4 linked regions of the Homo sapiens genome follow. The protein of the gene in region 1 purifies or fractionates together with the protein of each later gene. This does not show direct contact. Each region holds a gene or a part of one and is shown in the gene's direction. Other genes may lie near its edges.

Evidence for each region.
Region 2: the proteins of PDIA5 (region 1) and PPP1R2 fractionate together in Homo sapiens (co-fractionation; one large-scale study listed by BioGRID). This does not show direct contact.
Region 3: the proteins of PDIA5 (region 1) and ZMPSTE24 fractionate together in Homo sapiens (co-fractionation; one large-scale study listed by BioGRID). This does not show direct contact.
Region 4: the proteins of PDIA5 (region 1) and CNPY2 purify together in Homo sapiens (affinity purification with mass spectrometry; 2 studies listed by BioGRID and IntAct, with this or other methods). This does not show direct contact.

Annotation. Positions count from the first base shown.
Region 1 is NC_000003.12:123,069,516-123,074,225, forward strand, and holds part of PDIA5 (protein disulfide-isomerase A5 precursor), read left to right. Parts: intron 1-4,710.
Region 2 is NC_000003.12:195,532,667-195,536,856, reverse strand, and holds part of PPP1R2 (protein phosphatase inhibitor 2), read left to right. Parts: intron 1-4,190. UniProt on the Homo sapiens protein: Inhibitor of protein-phosphatase 1.
Region 3 is NC_000001.11:40,256,849-40,261,694, forward strand, and holds the start of ZMPSTE24 (CAAX prenyl protease 1 homolog), read left to right. Parts: upstream 1-1,387; 5' UTR 1,388-1,423; coding exon 1,424-1,546; intron 1,547-3,990; coding exon 3,991-4,137; intron 4,138-4,846. UniProt on the Homo sapiens protein: Transmembrane metalloprotease whose catalytic activity is critical for processing lamin A/LMNA on the inner nuclear membrane and clearing clogged translocons on the endoplasmic reticulum.
Region 4 is NC_000012.12:56,312,530-56,317,423, reverse strand, and holds the start of CNPY2 (protein canopy homolog 2 isoform 1 precursor), read left to right. Parts: upstream 1-1,435; 5' UTR 1,436-1,603; intron 1,604-2,181; 5' UTR 2,182-2,206; coding exon 2,207-2,294; intron 2,295-2,457; coding exon 2,458-2,573; coding exon of another isoform or gene 2,574-2,624; exon of another isoform or gene 2,625-2,929; intron 2,930-4,894. UniProt on the Homo sapiens protein: Positive regulator of neurite outgrowth by stabilizing myosin regulatory light chain (MRLC). It prevents MIR-mediated MRLC ubiquitination and its subsequent proteasomal degradation.

The DNA of each region.
Region 1 (4,710 bases):
TTTTTCACAGTTCTGCAGACCAAAAGTCCGAAATCAGGGTGCCAGCATGGTTGAATTCTAGTGAGGACCCTCCTCCAGAAGACTCTTGACTTCTCACTGTATTCTCATATGATAGAAAGAAGACTAGACAGTTCTCTTGGGTCCCTTTTTCAAGGGCACTAATCCTATTCATGAGCGATCCACCCTCATGACCTAATTACGTACCAAGGGCCCCACCTCCTAACACCACCACTTTGGGGGTTAGGATTTTAACATATGAATTTTCAGGGGAATGACAGAAATACTCAGTCCTGGCCGGGCACAGTTGCTCACACCTGTAATCCCAGCAGTTTGGGAGGCTGAGGCGGGTGGATCACCTGAGGTCAGGAGTTCGAGACCAGCCTGGCCAACATGGTGAAACCCCGTCTCTACTAAAAATACAAAAATTAGCCAAGCATGGTAGCGGGCGCCTGTAGTCCCAGCTACTCAGAAGGCTGAGGCAGGAGAATCGCTTGAACCCAGGAGGCAGAGGGTGCAGTGGGCTGAGATCGCGCCACTGCACTCCAGCCTGGGGGATGGAGCAAGACTCCATCTCAAAAAAAAAAAAAAAGAAGAAGAAGAAGAAGAAATATTCAGTCCATTGCAATGTTTATAAAGAATATTTTTATTTACCAGAATATTATGTTTATTATGAAAACATTTTATGATGTTTATGAAGAATATCTAAGGATGTGGAAAAATGCCCAAGTGTGATAAGTAAGGGAAAAGCAGGATGTAAAACCAAATCTGAGGGTGGCTGAAGTTACATGTATGAAGAATTAGTGCATCAAAATGTTAACAGTCATTGTTCTGGAAGGTGGAGTTGTGATGACTTCTGCTTCTTTGCTTATGCTTTTCTGTGGATTCCAAGTTTTTCACATGAATATGTATTAGTTTATAATCAGAAAAGTTAATAAAGATTTTTTAAAATGTTGCTTTGGGAACCCTTAGCCTTCCAAAAGAATACTGGGGAGGAAGGTGTCACTGTCAAACACGTGGGACAGGTTAGTTCCAAGAGCTTCCAGGCTGGGTGTCTGTGCCCTCAGAGGCTATGGGTGGCGGTGCCCTCCCTGCCAAGTGCTCCTGGACACAGGGGCAGGAGGTAGCCCTAGGGCACAGGGCGATCCCTGCCGAGCCATGCTGCCCTGCTCCCATCCCTGCGCTGACTGCCTGCTTTCCTGCTGTCCAGCTCAGCTCATCCCTGCAGCTGACTCTTCTCTAGGGCCGTCCATGCTGATTGTCCTGTTGGCTCCATCCAGCCTGTAGGATGGAGAAACGTCGAGCTGGAGTGAACTCTAGGTCTCCTAGCTCAGTGGTTCTCAAGCATTGGGCCAAGGACTGAAGCTGGGCTGGGATAGAGTTTTCTGGTCTGCAGTCAAACTGGAAAAAAAAAATGGTGTATTTTTTTGTTTGTTTGTTTTTCATGAATGCAAATGTTTTCAGTTTAAAAAGTTGTCAATTTTTCTGACATGACGATATTTTGAGGGGGAGGGGGTTACAGCATCCCTTTGAAAAATGAGGCTGGTTGTAGTATATTGTGATTTCTTTTTAAAAGCCCTTTCTTGATAAAATTTATTTTTAATAATATAAAATCCATTTTATATTTAAAAATATATATATTCTGCTGATCTGTGAGATTCAGAACTGATCTAACTCAGCCTTCTCCTTTTATAGGAGAATAGCGAGGCTTAGGGAGGGAAGGGACTCACTCAAGGCCACCCAGTTAGTGAAGGCAGAGCTGGGAGAAGAGCCAGATCTGCTGAATGTAAATCGGGTTCTTCCCACTCATCCATCTCCCGCCTGCTTCTCTGCCTCTGCCCCTGATGGTCGCTTGAAGCTCAGACCCTGGAGGACAGTGGGTGGAGGTGCAGGAGGCAGATGTTTGTTCCTGGCATCTCCTGTAGAGCTTTTAAGGTACACTTATTTAGGTTCTGTACTTCTCTGGGACGATTATATATTTAATAGGCTTTTGTGGGTTGGCCTGAGGACTGAATTGCCATTTAAAATGCTGTTTGGAACCTGTAGTGCACATTTCCCACAGAAATAAACACATTACAGCGGAAGTCTTAAAACAGACCCGGCATATAAGGTGGAAGTGTGGCTGAGTGCCATAAGAGTGGCAGCCCCTGTGTGCTGGGGATCCAGGACGAGGCCAAGCAGTGGGACACCGAGTGATCAGAGAAGGCCCCAGGAAAGAGCAAGGTGTGGACTGGCCTCACAAGGAGGGCAGACTTGGAGCTCTGTGACAGCAGGGAGCCCCCTGTCCTGGCTGTAGTGTCCCCAGCACCTAGCCCAGGGCCTGGCATGTCGTCAGCCCCGGTCCGTGTTTGGCTGATGGAACTAATGTCACAGGCAGAGAAGGAAACCTTCCAAGCCAGAGACATGGGAAATGAGGAATGATAGGCCAGGCTGGATGGAGGGAGGGTTTGAGTCTGGGGATGAGGGGAGTAAGACTGAAAAAGTGGATCGTAAAGAACTTTAAATGCCTGGCAAAGCTGTGGGGGACTCGATTCTGTAGGTAATGGAGAGACTTGATGAAAGCTGCCCTTTTAATAACAAGATCAATCAGGCCGCATGTAGGGTTGGGTGGGAGGGGGAGAGACTAATTTTCCCAGAACAACACTTTCATCCTTACTTTCCTCTCTGTTATCTACAAGATAAATTCAAGTGTTATGTAGTGGAAAGAACATGGGCTTTTAGCCAGCTAGACACTCAGGAGCTGCGTGACCTTGGGCCCTGCCTCAGTTTTCTTGTTTGTTAGTGGTGGTAATGATATCCATCTTGCAGTGTTGAAAGGATTAGAAAAAATACAGGAAGCACCCAACACAGCGCTTGGCACGTGAAAGTGCCCAGTCACTGGGAGTCTCAGCAGTCATTGCCAGTTGTTGAGTAAGAGATGATGGGGAAGGCAGTTAAGAGGAGGAGGTGGGCAAGGAAGGGCCAGAGAGAGGCTGCATGATTTGAATGCCAGGTACGGGTACCCCTGTGCAGCTAGGATTCTCCCCACGGGAGTTACTTGGAGCTGAGCTCTTGACTGCCTCCTTGCCTCCTCTCTGCCAGGCTGCTGCAGAGATCCCAGGTAGGGGGGGTGGTGCAGAAGGGCTCAGGATGTAAGTGTGCTTGGTTTCTCTCCCCTTTCTTCTGAAAGTAGATCCCCTCTTGAGAATGAAGACACCAAACACACTGTATCCCAGGAGGGTTTTGCCCCAGCTTTGTGGTTTTATTCTGTTGGGCTCTTGTGTCTTGCTTGGTGGTTGTGGTAGCCTTTGAGGCTGAGTGACAATGGGCCAGAAATGAATGCATGGGGTATAAGGAGAGGCGGAGGTTCTTCCACATAACCTGGACTTGGGATGGTTTATTTGCCCCCTACCTCTCCTTCTGTGTGTGTGTGTGTGTGTGTGTGTGTGTGTATGTGGTGTTGTTGTTTTTAACACCTGGCATCTTAGGTCCCAACGGGAGAGGGAAGGAGCAGGAGTGCTCAGCCCTGGTGGGCTGGCCCATTCCTTCTGCCTGGCCATCTTTCAGCACTGCCTGGAGCCTCTGGCTCCCCGTGTGATCTGTTGGCAGAATTGTCAAATCGGATGCATTTGTAGAGGGCTTGAGAGTTTGCAAAGCATTTCCACGTATTTCACGACGGTGTGGTTTTGAGCCCCATGTAACTTGGTGAGGTGAGTAGGCTAGCCCAGTACCATCATCCCTGGAGAGGGATGGGTGGCTGGACAGGGAGGTGGGAAGCAACATGTCCTTAGACGAGGTTGAGGTGTCTGTGGCCTGGAAGATGAAGGCATAAAGAGATAGGTGGGGACCACAGTCAGAGTTCTCAGTGCCTGGCTTGAATGTGTAAGCAGCTGCGTTGGCAGCCATTTTCCAGGAGTGTCCCTGAAACTTGCTTTTCAGCTGCTCCCTGGTGGCTTTGGCATTGGACAGGGGTGGCCAGCCAGGTACATGCTGACTGTATCCTTCCCCCAAGGAGCTCCAGTTCACTGTCCCCTATTGCCACCCTACATCAGCAGGGCCTCTTTCCACATACCAGTTTGCAACCACTTCTAAATAATTAGCTTTGTGATCTTACATTGGGGGGTTGAAGACACTCATGGAGTGTGGGGTTAAAAGAGCCTTTATTCCTCAAAGTCATACTGAGGCCCCAGTCTGATGCACATTCCATTCCTAGATGGTGTGATGGTGGGCCTGTGTCTGGCTTCAGAGTTTCCAGCTCACTAGAGTTGCGGGGGCGCAAGGGTGGAGTGTCCATTCCCTGCAAAGAATCCTACAGTTCCTCCAACCCCTTGGCGCAGGCAGATTTCTGGAAGTCGTGAGCAGGTCCTTTAATCCTTGTTGGAAGATGTTGATGAAAATCAAGGTTGAGGGTTGTAAACTGGGGCTTAAACATAAAGGTGATCCAGTATCTGAGCCCAGATGTGGGCCTGGTAGGAAAGCTCTGTTGTTTGGGCCAAGTAGGGAAGGGTCTTGAGGAACGAGTGGGTTTGTTCTCATCACAGGGTCTAGTCTTACTGGGTCCTGGGCAGAGTATTAGTACATGCCCCTATTTCAAAGGAAGGTGGACCAACATCAGCATCCTACATGTGCCACAGATGTTCATTCATTCAACAGATACTTCTTTTTTTTCCCAAATGGATATTTCCTTGAGAATCTTTTATGAGCCAGGCCTCATGCTAAGGCATTGGGGATAAC
Region 2 (4,190 bases), about 72 Mb from region 1:
TTCTTTTTTTTATCCTAAGCAACGATGATCAGTTGTCGTCGTTGTCTTTTTTTTTTTTTTTTTTTTTTGAGACGGAGTTTCGCTCTTGTCGCCCAGGCTGGAGCACAATGGTGCAATCTCAGCTCACGGCAACCTTTGCCTCCTGGGTGCAAGTGATTCTCCAGCCTCAGCCCCCTGAGTAGCTGGGATTACAGGCATGCGCCACCAAGCATGGCTAATTTTTGTATTTTAGTAGAGACAGGGCTTCATCATGTTGGCCGGGCTGGTCTTGAACTCCTGACTTCAGGTGATCTGCCCACCTCCTAAATTGTCATTTTTAATTCAATATTGTTAACATCACTTAGGAAGTAACTTGTTTTACTTTGAGATTAACAGGCACCCCCAAACAACATTATTAATATGTGTTTATTTTTAAAATATTTTATTACAGTGTAATATACATACAGAAAAGCATATTAAGTATAAATTTAAAGTGTCAGAAATTATTGCTAAAGCACACACTGGCTGGGTGCGGTGTCTCACACCTATAATCCCAGCACTTTTTTTTTTTTTTTTTTTTTTTTAAAGACAGGGTCTCGCTATGTTGCCCAGGTTGATCTCAAACTCCTGGGCTCAGGTGATCCTCCCACTTTGGCCTCCCAAAGTGTTGGGATTTATAGGCATGAGCCACTGTGCCCAGCCCCCCAAAACTTAACTACTGGTAGCCTCCTGTTGACTGAAAGCCTTACAGGTAATATAAACAATTGATTAACTACATGTTTTGTATGTTACAAGTATTATGTTACTGCGTTCTTATAATACAGTAAGCTAGAGAAAAGAAAATGTTAAAATCGTAAGGAAGTGGATCATCATAAAGATCTTTATCCTGGTGGTCTTTCACATTGAGCAGGCTGAGGAGGAGGAGGGGTTGGTCTCACTGTCTTGGGTGATAAAGGCGATAGAAGGAGAGGCAGGCTCACTTGGTGTAACTTTACAAAAATACATCATAATTTATGCCTAACTTTTGTGCTTTTTCGTTTCTCTTAAGATGCTTCTATGTGGTACTAATAATCTTCCTTCTACTGTTTAGTTTCAGTGTCCATATCATAAAAGCGTCCATGTTGTAAAATAAGCCAAGCAGTCTCAAATAGAACTCTTGGTCAGATTGTCTAGTGTCAATTTGTTTCCTGGCTTTGCTTCTTCTACATATTCTTCCGTATCCTCTGGCACTGATTCAGAAGCACTCATCTCTATCAAATCATCTTCTGTTAATTCCTCTGGTGTGATGTCTGTTAGCTCTTGAATTTCAGGATCCATATCTTGAAACCCTTCACCCCCACCAAATAATCCACAATCTCATTAGTTCCTTGATTGGCACTGTCGTAAATCCCGTGAAGTCATGCGTAACATCTGGATACAGTTTTCTCGAGCAGGAATTCATTGTTTGAGACTTGACAGCTTTCTTAGCTTTTTCTGTAACAACAATGGCATACACAGTGGTGAAACCCTTCCAGACTTTCATGATGTTCTCCATGAGGGTTGACAGTCTTTTCCATAGAGCAAGGATCCCCACACCCCAGGCCACGTGGCAGGTGCCTGAGCTCCACCTCCTGTCAGATCAATGGTGACATTAGATTCTCATAGGAGTGTGAACCCTATTGTGAACTGTGCATGCGCGGGCTCTAGGTCGCCCACTCCTTATGAGAGTCTAATGCCTGATGATCTGAGGTGGAACAGTTTCATCCTGAAACCTTCCCACCCGACCCCACACCACGCAAAAGTTGTCTTTCCCGAAACCGCTCACTGGTGCTAAAAAGGTTGGGGACCACTGCGTAGAGTGCCATGTGTGCTGAATCTTAAAGGTCCTCTGTGACCCCCGATCTAGAGGTTAAATTGGAGATGTTGTGTTTGAGGACGAGTAAACCACCTTGACACCTTTATAGGGTTGAACTCATAGGGTTCATAGGTGGCCAAAGAGAGACATTGTCCAGAATCAAAACAACTTTAAAAGGTACTTTACTGCCAGGCACGTGGCTTGAGCCTGCAGCCCTAGCTGCTCAGGTGGCTGACACAGTCACATCACTTAAGCCCAGGAGTTCGAGGCTGCAGTGAGCTATGATTGTGCCACTGCACTCCAGCCTGGGCGATGGAGTAATGCCCTATCTCTCTTTTTTTTTTAAAAGCAGTTCTGTATTGGCAAGGTACTTCCTTACCCTGGGGACAGAACATGGACGGAACCAGGAGGGTTCTCGTTGTCCAGACCTTCTACAACCACAAGACTGGCAGCTGGTGTTTATCTTTTCCCTTCAAGGCTCCGGGGTTAGCAGCTTTATAGTTAAGGACAGTTCTGATCATAAACCCTACTGCATTGGCACAAGACAGTAGAGTTAGCCTGTCCCTTCCTGCCTTAAATCCTGATGCTTGCTTCTCTTTTCTTATAAATAAATGTCCTTTGTGGCATTTTTTTCCCCAGAATCAGGCACTTTTATTCTCATTAAAAACCTGTACAGGCAGATCAGATGTCCTTTCTCCTTAATAATTTTTTCTTTTTCTGGACAGTCTCACTTTGCCACCCAGGCTGGATTACAGTGGCTCGATTGCAGATGGCTCACTGCAGCCTTGACCTCCTGGGCTCAGGTGATCCTCCCACTTCAGGCCACCCCCAAGTAGCTGGGACTGCAGGTGTGTGTGTGCCATCATGCCTGGCTAATTTTAAAAATTTTTTGTAGAGATAGTGTCTCACTATGGTTGCCCAAGCTGTTCTCAAACTCCTGGGCTCAAGAGATCCTCCTGCCTCAGCCTCCCAAAGTGTGGGATTACAGGTGTGAGCCATTGCACCTGGCCCTTTCTCATTAGTGATTTTCTTAATGGCCTCTGGGAACTCGTCTGCAGCCTGTTGGTTGGCAGAAGCTGCTTCTCTGTTATCTTGTAATTTTAAAGCCAAACCTCTTTCTAAAATTATCAAACCATTGTTTGCTCGCATTAAATTCTCCAACTTTAGATTCTTCACCTTCTTTTTGCTTTAAGTTATCATATAGTGACATCATTTTTTCTCAAATCATATTAGAGTCTATAGTCTTGTACAATCCTGCACTCACATAAAAGATGCATCGGCAATACAAAAGGCACTTCACAAAATATGCAAGGTTTTCATGCTGGTATCGCTACTGCAGTGACAGCTTTGTGAATTTCCTTTTATTTGATTTTATTTTTACAATGGTCTTTATGGTGGATTCATGTTTAAATGATGGGCAGCCGCAGTTGCAGAGCTCCATCTAAGGTACTCATCAAGCGTTCTACTTTTTCTTGTAATGTCACAACTTTGCTTCTTGGGAATGCTTCCAGCATCTCTAGTGGCATTTTGTATGACTCCCATGGTGTTACTCAAGGTTTACAATATTGCACTAAATAGGATAAAAAATACTCAAAAACCAAGACAGATCACTTTTTATTGCAACAGGCAATTTACTGGAGCAACAAACTACTCACACTGAAACAACTAGCATCATAGAGCTTTTTTTTTTTTTTTTCCTGAGGCAGAGTCTTACTCTGTTGCCCAGGCTGGAGTGCAGTGGCATGATCTCTGCTCACTGCAACCCCTGCCTCCCGGGTTCAAGTGATTCTTCTGCATCAGCCTCCTGAGTAGCTAGGACTACAAGCGCAAGCCACCATGCCTAATTTTTTTGTATTTTTGGTAGAGACGGGGTTTCACCATGTTGGCTAGGCTGGTCTCGAGCGCCTAACCTCAAGTGATCCACCTGCCTCAGCCTCCCAAAGTGCTGGGATTACAGACGTGCCTGGCCGCATCATAGAGCATTTTAAGCAAACTTGCAACACTTGAGGAGACTGCAGTAGCAACAAGAGATAGCTGTGAAACTGTGACATAGAATAGTATGTACTGTAGTTAATTTTATGCAGTTATGATCCAACTGCAGATCCAACACCATGTGTTGTATGTGCATGTTTTGATAAATTTTAACGTTACATTTTAACTAGGCTTGTGAATATTTTATGGTAGTAAATGATAAAGTAGACTATTCTCTATGTATAATGCACTTATGACATAACTAACTTTTAAGGTTTTTTTAAATATTTCTGGGCTATGTGGTTTATCTGAGTTTCTTCAAATTGTCACAAGCCTCCAAAAAAATTTCCAGTAGATTTGTTGAAAAAAAATCCGCATATAAGTGGACCCACACAGTTCAAACTCA
Region 3 (4,846 bases), on another chromosome or scaffold:
GAAATGGTTTTACATAAATAGGTGAGAATGCTAGTAGTTTTGTTGTAAGCATGTCAATCAATCGTTTGGTTTCTTTCCGAGTTGCATGCCAAAAACCAAATAGTGTTCCTTCATCAGCTGACAATTCATGGGCCACCATTAATTTTGTTGAAAGCAAAGAACTGGAAACCATCTGACTTGAAAAGAATTTGTTATCCTGTTATTAGAGTCATTCACTTTCTCTAGTGACTTTTAATTATACTAATTACTCTCAGAGGCATTTAGGCAGGGTTGAGAAATTCAAGATATTAATTTCAACACATCTTTAGCATCACAATATCACAGTAATTTAAATATATTTTAGTTGTAGCTATTTAGCTCACTTTATTGTAAATAATAATTATGCTAATTAGCAACGATAGTATGTTTAACCAATTAATCATCAGATTAACTTTCGGTCAGAATAATGGACTTCAATTTTTAAGTCAAAGCAATGTACAGGCGTCCCAGTCACCATATTTCACTTCTGAATTCCAAGAGAGAAATGGCGTTGCGCCTTACTGACGCAAATATGTACCTAGATAAAGTAAGACGCTTTCATTTCAGGTATGTCTAACCCACGCTATCCTTGCTTTGTTCCAGGGCACTCTCGCAGGGAAAACGCCGCCTCTGACTACACTTGGGGTGGTTAAGACGAGATCTTCAAATGAAAATTCTCAACGCTACCGTCCACTCTCTCATACGCTTGAATTCCGAACACCCCAATACTGGCCAAAAGACTCCATTTCTCATGCTTGGTCTTGCTTTTGAGGTAGCTCTAACTCAGAGGCACGATTTTTAGAGCCTGGGAAGTCGGCTGCTGTTCAGTCCTTCCTAGCCTCCTCAGGCGGGAGCCGCGGCCCACTCAGTCAGTTGCGGCCCACTCAGTCAGTTCCGGCCCCAGCCCCGACTACCTGTCGCCTTGTTGGGGGAAGGAAGGCAGATACCGCAGCCCAGTCAGGGTAAGCCGCTGACCCAGAGGATGGAACTGCGGCTCTGGAGATTAGAAAGAGGAGGACTTCGCCGCGTTCACTAGCCCAGGAGGAAAGCCAGAACCCTAGGCCGGAACCCAGCGTCAAGACGTGGGGGAAGAATGTTGATGCAACACAGCTCAGCCGGGCCCGGAACTCGGCGTTTGGGTCCCCGCCCTCTTTGGGCCGGAAGTGAGGAAGGTGGGGCTGGGGCTTTTCCTGTAGAAACTAGGAGGGACTAGGGAGAGTCTGCAAGGGGAAGAGTGTGTCTGTGACACTGCCAGCAGCGCGCAGAGGGAGGGATGGGGGCGGGTATCGGCGTAGGGGCCCTCGGAAAGAACGGATATTGCTGTGACACCGCGGGGACGCTCTGAAGGGACGAGTGTCGGTGTGGCACCGGTGCACGCTGAAGGAGCCGGCGGAACCGGGTGGCCATGGGGATGTGGGCATCGCTGGACGCTTTGTGGGAGATGCCGGCCGAGAAGCGTATCTTCGGGGCCGTGCTGCTCTTTTCCTGGACAGTGTATCTTTGGGAGACCTTCCTAGCACAGCGGCAGGTGAGCCTAGACAGGGTCCAACCTGACCCCCATACCCGGCCAGCCCTGGAGTAGCCTTGGCTTCGACCCTGAGACTCTTGATTGCTTCGGTCCCCGCGCCAGTCTCGTCTTTGTGGTCCCTGCTGAGTCTCGTAACTTGGCCCGATGGCGGACTGTGGCTTTGAGGAGGGTCTTGGTGCGTCAAGGAAGTTTTCTGTAACGTTATCATGGGACCCAATCCCTTTAGGGCCTGGAGGAAGGCTTGGGCTCTTGTGCCCTCCCTGCAGCTTCCTTGGGATCCTTGGGCCCAGACTTGGCCTCCTTTATCTTTGGAATAAGCCTTTAAAAGGATTTAGACACCCAACTTCCTCATGACATTTATGTAATCATGCCTAACCATAGGATTTTGCAGTCCTTCCAAGAACTTGCACTCTTGTTTCTCCTTAAAGTGCATATATTGTTTCTGCTTGAAAAAACAAACAAACAAACAAAAAACTTATCGGGCCCGGCGTGGTGTCTCATGCCTGTAATCCCAGCACTTTGGGAGGCCGAGGCGGGCGGATCACCTGGGGTCAGGAGTTCGAGACCAGCCTGACCAACGTGGCGAAAACCCGTCTCTACTAAAAATAGAAAAATTAGCCGGGTGTGGTGGCGCGCACCTGTAGTCCCAGCTACTTGGGAGGCTGAGGCAGGAGAATCATTTGAACCCAGTAGGCGGAGGTTGCAGTGAGCTGAGATTGTGCCACTGCACTCCAGCCTGGGCGACAAGAGTGAAACTCAATCTCAAAATAAATAAATAAATGAAATTAAATGAAATATATTTCTCGTTTTTCATAAAATCAACATTATTTTAGTTTAAATATTAAAATGGTAAAATAAAAAGTGAAAGTTAACAATTTACCTGAGATAACCATGGTTTAGAGATCTGAACTTTTATTTATTTATTTTTAATCTTTATTTATTTATTTAATTTTAGAGTCTAGCTCTGTCACCAGGCTGGAGTACAGTGGCGTTATCTCGGCTCACTGCAAGAAACTAGGAGGGACGAGGGAGAGTCTGCAAGGGGAAGAGTGTGTCTGTGACACTGCCAGCAGCGCGCAGAGGGAGGGATGTTCAAATGATTCTCCTGCCTCAGCATCCCGAGTAGCTAGGATTACAGGCACGTGCCACCACGCCCAGCTAATTTTAGTATTTTTAGTAGAGACGGGGTTTCACCATCTTGGCCAGGATAGAATATTTATTGTATTTAGAGACAGGGGCTCACTCTGCCACCCAGACTGGAGCACAGTAGCATCATCATAGCTCAAGGCAGCCTCGAACTCGTGGGCTCAAACGACCCCTCCACCTCCACCTCAGCCTTCTGAGTTGCTAGGACCACAGGTGCGGATCACTGTGCCTGGCTAATTGTTTGATTTTTTTGTAGAGATGTTGCCCGGGGTGGTCTGGAGTTCCTGGACTCAAGTCATCTTGCCGCCTCCACCTCCCAAAGGGCTGGGATTACAGGCATGAGCCACCGTGCTCGATCTCCCCTCAGCTTTTATTGGCACACAACAATATATAGGGAAAGCATGTTGTAGTGGCCCATTATTTTGTTTGGTATCCATTCTCTGTATTACATTTCCTGGACTGAAATTACCCTTACCTTTTATAATTTAGTATAATGAGATAGTTGATCTTTCTCCTTTTTTTTTTTTTTTTTTTTTTTTAAGGAGATAGATTCTCTGTCACCCAGGGTGTAGTGCTGTGGCACAATATGGGCTTACTGCAACCTCTGCCTCCCAGGCTCAAGTGATCCTCCCACCTCAGCCCCCCAAATAGCTGGGACCACAGGTGCATACCACCACACTCTGCTAATTTTTGTATTTTTTGTAGAGACGGGATTTCACCACATTGCTCAGGCCAGTCTTGAACTCCTGGGCTCAAGGAATCCTTCTGCCCCTGTCTTCCAAACTGCTGGGATTACAGGCGTGACCCACCGTGCCCGGCTGAAAATTGGTCTTTTCTCACAGACCTGATATGTTTCCATCTGGTGATCCTCAAGTTTCTGGCATTTAGGACCAAATTTAATGAGCAGCCTCAGTATCTGTTCATACTCACAGTTAGCATGTGTGCTTCTCCTTTGCATGAATTTGTTTTCCGTATTATAGGAGGTATGTAATACCCAGAATGAGTAGTACATGTAACAAAGTTGTGATGTTAACAGCTTTGGTTTACATATACAAACTGAAGTGTGATGACAACCCTGATTATAGTTTTACCAGTCAGGTCACCTCAGGTTCTCTTGTTCTGCTTTTATTTTCCTGCATCAGTCGTTTCATGTACTTGATCAAGTGCAATATTTGTGTAGGTATAAAGCAAATTCAACAGATATAAGTGGCAAGCTATAAACCATTCGATGTTTGATCATAAATGACTATTGTAATAAACAACTATTTCACTAAAGTGTTTTCTTTAAAATATTTCAGAGAAGGATATATAAAACAACAACTCATGTACCACCGGAGTTAGGACAGATCATGGATTCTGAAACATTTGAGAAATCTCGACTCTATCAACTGGATAAAAGCACTTTCAGCTTCTGGTCAGGACTCTATTCAGAGACTGAAGGCACTGTGAGTAATTTACTTCTTGGAGAGACAGTCTGTCTGGTTGTTTTCATTTTCATATTTTTGTAACACAAAAGAGGGTACCACACTTACAAGTCCCAGAATGCTTTCTTAACCTTTGTTATTGATAGTAACGGCTGTGGAGCAAAAAAGACAGAAACATAACTGCTTAGTCAGTTGAAAACTATAGAATATGGGAACTATTACCCTGAAGCCAGGTAGGAAAAAGATCCTCTTCCATTAGGATCCAGCTGAGATGTCATGTCTTCTAAGCAACCATTTGAAACTCCCTGCCTGACGAATGTGGATAGGGTAGCATTCTATCATTATTCCTGTCAGAGTACTTATCTCATTATGTTGAATTTGCCTGGATTTTTTTTTTTTTCTTCTGGCACAGTCTTGCTCTGTCACCCAGGCTGAAGTACAGTGGCGTGATCTTGGCTCACTGCAACCTCTGCTTCCTAGGCGCAAATGATCCTCCCACCTCAGCCTCCCGAGTAGTTGGGACTACAGTTGCATGCCACCATACCGTCTCAGAGTGCTGGGATTATAGGCATGAGCCACACTGTACCTGGCCTGATTTGACTGTTTAATTGGCAGACTGGTAGTTCCTTAAAGAAATAGTTAAGTCTTGTTCATCATTTTATACCTAGTGCCTGGCATGTAATCAGCATATAGTTCCTATTTATTGAATGAAATAATGTGGGGTTTTTTT
Region 4 (4,894 bases), on another chromosome or scaffold:
GCCAGATTCATTCCTTCTTCATTCTTTGCAAAACAGTGGTACAGACATGGAGTCTAGAATTGACCCAGATGGAAAGTAATTGGTATTCTTAATATCCTGGGTGACTAATATCCAGGCAGAGAAGCTCCTGGAACCATAACTGTAAGTTCCTAGCTGGCTAGGGATTGAAGTCCTGGACAGTGACAGAGGATACCACAGTAGTTCAAGACTTAGCACAAGTCACCAACTGCTTCAGGGATACCTGGAGGGGCCAGCAAGTAGAGTGTTGGTGGCCCAAGCAAACCAGTGTTGCCAATACCATTGCCAAAAGGGCCTTTGGATCCTGGACAAAGCTTGGCTGCCGGCTTCATTTATTCCTGCTGATGGCTGAGAAGCATCTGTCTTCCATCCCACTTGCCTGTCCCAAGTTTTGTTCCATTTTTTAAAAATTTGTTGTAAACTGCATGTTTTATAAAATAAAAATAAAATATCGTTTGTTATTTATCTCATTAGAGAACTGCTAGTGTGGGTTCTCTGGCTTCAGTCTTCCTCTCCTTCCTTTGAAGGTAAAGGTCCGGAATCCAAAGTTATGGATATGAAAGGGTATAATTAGGCCGGGCGCGGTGGCTCACTTCTGTAATCCTAGCACTTTGGGAGGCAGAGGTGGGTGGAACACGAGGTCAGGAGTTAAAGACCAGCCTGACCAAGATGGTGAAACCCCGTCTCTACTAAAAATACAAAAATTAGCTGGGAGTGGTGGATGGCGACTGTAACCCTAGCTGAGGCAGAAAATTGCTTCAACCCGGGAGGCGGAGGTTGCAGTGAGCCGAGATCACGCCACTGTATGCCAGCCTGGGCGATAGGGCGAGACTCCGTCTCAAAAAAAGGGGAAAAAGGTATAATTTATGCCTTTTCTGGGCAATGCTGGGTCTTTGCTATAGCTGCCCAGTACCCTAAGTCAGACTGAAGATGTACAGTATGGTTTCCGTTAATTGTGTAAGCCGACAAACTACAGGTCCCAGGATAGCTTGAGACTTGTAGTTGCTCACAAAGATGGGTCCGGTGCTGCGGTGCTTCCTGGGAGATGTAGTTTCCTGTGTATTGAAACCTGGACTGCTCGCTGGCCGGCAGCGCACCGTTTTGAAGGTCCTAGCCCACCTGGGCTGGCTCACGCGCACGACTAGCCGCTCCCATACAGCACGCCCGGACTCTGTCGTCGCTTAAGGCCACTCCTATTCTACGGCTGACCCCTGGTGGTCACGTGGATCTGTTCGCCACGCAAGTCTGGGTCCTTCGGCGATTGACCGGGGTCCTTGCTGTTCGGGAGCCTCTCCTAAGCTGCCTGTTCGCGCGAGAGTTTGGAGGGGCGGGTTTGGGGTCGGTGTCTGATTGGGGCTCGCACCGCAGCACGCTGGAGTCCCGCTTAGGTACCAGTTAGCGTCAGGGGAGCTGGGTCAGGCGGTCGCCGGGACACCCCGTGTGTGGCAGGCGGCGAAGCGCTCTGGAGAATCCCGGACAGCCCTGCTCCCTGCAGCCAGGTGTAGTTTCGGGAGCCACTGGGGCCAAAGTGAGAGTCCAGCGGTCTTCCAGCGCTTGGGCCACGGCGGCGGCCCTGGGAGCAGAGGTGGGACGGATGCGGGCGGCGAGGCGCTGGGCGCTGAGGGTTGGGGATGGACTGAAGCGAAAGCAATGGCGGAGTCCTTAGAAAGGGGGCTGGTGTCCGTACGGGTAATCACTTACGGGCTGGAGGTGGGGACGCAGGAATCTTCGGTGCAGGATCCAAATGGGCCCTAGTTATTGCTCTCCTCGCTGGCCTCCTGGCCTGACTGAGGGCTCCCTGCCGGCAGTTCCCTAGTGCCTGTAGTCCTCACGTAATCGCCAACTTACCTCCTGTAGCTGCCACAAAGCCCCGTGAACCCTAGGCATGCAGTGCTAAAGTACCAACACTTAGGGCCTCACCTATCCACGTAGAGTCTGGGGCTGAGCCGCAAGTCCTGAGCTCGCGCTCCCACCCACCACCCTGGGGGAATCAGAGCCCTCAAGCGCTGGAACAGAGAAGCCCCTTTGTGTCCCGGCCATTTCCTGGAAAGTAGAGCCAGAGTCACAATGAGGCCTTTGAAAGCCTTGGGGTGAGGATTGGGGGGGTCAGGGAAAAATGGAGTCGGCTCCTCACACTTATGTTTTATTCCCACTCAAACCCAGGTGGAGCGACCCCATTACGCTAAAGATGAAAGGCTGGGGTTGGCTGGCCCTGCTTCTGGGGGCCCTGCTGGGAACCGCCTGGGCTCGGAGGAGCCAGGATCTCCACTGTGGAGGTAAAGGCACAACGGGAAAAAGAAGTGGAGGAAGCAGAGCCTTGGGAGGGCATGAGATCCAAGGCCTGGGAGAAGGATGAATGGAAATCCTGGGTTGATCCCATTCTCCTCACACCCTACCCCCTACCCTGTCCCCTGCTCTCATTCTCTCCTCTTCCACCAGCATGCAGGGCTCTGGTGGATGAACTAGAATGGGAAATTGCCCAGGTGGACCCCAAGAAGACCATTCAGATGGGATCTTTCCGGATCAATCCAGATGGCAGCCAGTCAGTGGTGGAGGTAACTGTTACTGTTCCCCCAAACAAAGTAGCTCACTCTGGCTTTGGATGAAATTCGACTGCTTAAAAAGGACCTTGGTTTAATAGAAATGAAGAAAACAGACTCAGAAAAAAGATTTGGCTCTGTCTCATTTGGAAGAAGCTGCAGGCTTATTCCCCATGCACTTGCTTCCTGGCTGCAAACCTTAATACTTTGTTTCTGCTGTAGAATTTGTTAGCAAACAGGGAGTCCTGATCAGCACCCTTCTCCACATCCACATGACTGGTTTTTAATGTAGCACTGTGGTATACATGCAAACATCCGTTCAAAATCTGAGTCGGAGCTAAAAATAAAAAATGAAAAAACAGAAATAAGAATAAAAGGTCTTATCCTCATAATTAGGAAATTTTAATCGAAAACAACACACATGTACACAAAGGTGTATCTAATAAGCAATATATAAGGCAGTGTTAAGATTACAGTGCTAGCCTGGGCATCATGGCAAAACACCAACTCTACAAAAAAATGCAAAAGTTAGCAGTGCATGGTGGCATGTGCCTGTAGTGACAGCTGCTTGGAAGGCTGAGGTGGGAGGATCACTTGAGCCCAGGAGGTCGAGGCTGCAGTAAGCCGTGATTGTGCCACTGCACTCCAGCCTGGGAAACACAGCAAGACCCTGTCTCAAAAAAAAACCAAAACCCAGCACTTTGGGAGGCCAAGGCAGGCGGATCACCTGAGGTTAGAAGTTCGAGACCAGCCTGGCCAACATGGTGAAACTCCGTCTCTACTAAAAATACAAAAAAGTAGCCAGGCGTGGTGGCTCATGCCTATAGTCCCAGCTACTCAGGAGGCTGAGGCAGGAGAATCACTTGAACCCAGGAGGCAGAGGTTGCAGTGAGCCAAGATCGCACCACTGCACTCCAGTCTGGTTGACAAGAACAAAACTCTGTCTTGAAAAAAAAAAAAGGCCGGGCGCGGTGGCTCACGCCCGTAATGCCAGCACTTTGGGAGGCTGAGGTGGGCAGATCACAAGGTCAGGAGATCGAAACCATCCTGGCTAACATGGTGAAACCCCGTCTCTACTAAAAATACAAAAAATTAGCCGGGCGTGGTGGTGGGTGCCTGTAGTCCCAGCTACTCAGGAGGCTGAGACGAAAAGAATGGCGTGAACTCGGGAGGCAGAGCTTGCAGTGAGCTGAGATGGTGCCACTGCACTCTAGCCTGGGCGACACAGCGAGACTCCTCTCAAAAAAAAAAAAAGAAAAGAAAAAAGATTATGGTACTTTAATAGCTGTTGTTCACAGAGCCTACACTACATCTTTAATACTGTGCTTACTGAGGATATTAGTCTCAATTTAAACAAAATTATTATTATTTTTTTGAGATGGAGTTTAGGGCTTGTTGCCCAGGCTGGAGTGCAATGACACGATCTCGGCTCACCGCAACCTCTGCCTCCCGGGTTCAAGCGATTCTCCTGCCTCAGCCTCCCGAGTAGCTGGGATTACAGGCATGCACCACCACACCTGGATAATTTTGTATTTTTAGTAGAGACAGGGTTTCTCCATGTTGGTCAGGATGGTCTCGAACTCCTGACCTCAAGTGAGCCACCCTCCTCGGCCTCTCAAAGTGCTGGGATTACAGGCGTGAGCCACCACGCCCGGCCAAAAATAAAATATTAATGAACACATGGACACAGGGAGGGGAACGTCACACATCAGGTCCTGTTGGGGTGTTGGGGGCTAGGGGAGGGATAGCATTAGGAGAAATACCTAATGTAGATGACAGGTTGATGGGTGTAGCAAACCACCATGGCACATGTATACCTATGCAACAAACCTGCACGTTCTGCACATGTATCTCAGAACTTAAACTATAATTTAAAAAAAAATTATCTTCATCTATAGAAATTAGAAGTATAAGTTGATCAGGTTAATCAAAAAATTCTGTTTATAACTTGGAGCTAATGTTAACTGTCTTGTTTCTTAGAATTGTACAATGAGGTGCCGGGCACGGTGGTTCATGCCTGTAGTCCCAGCACTTTGGGAGGCTGAGGCGGGTGGATTACCTGAAGTTGGGAGTTTGAGACCAGCCTGACCAACATGGAGAAACCCCGTCTCTACTAAAAATACAAAATTAGCTGGGCGTGGTGGCACATGCCTGTAATCCCAACTACTCGGGAAGCTGAGGCAGGAGAATCACTTGAACCCGGGAGGTGGAGCTTGCGGTGAGCCGAGATCGCGCCATTGCACTCCAGCCTGGGCAACAAGAGTGAAACTCCATCTCAAAAAAAAAAAGAAAAAAAAAAAGAATTGTACAATGAGGTAAAATAAAATCATATAGTT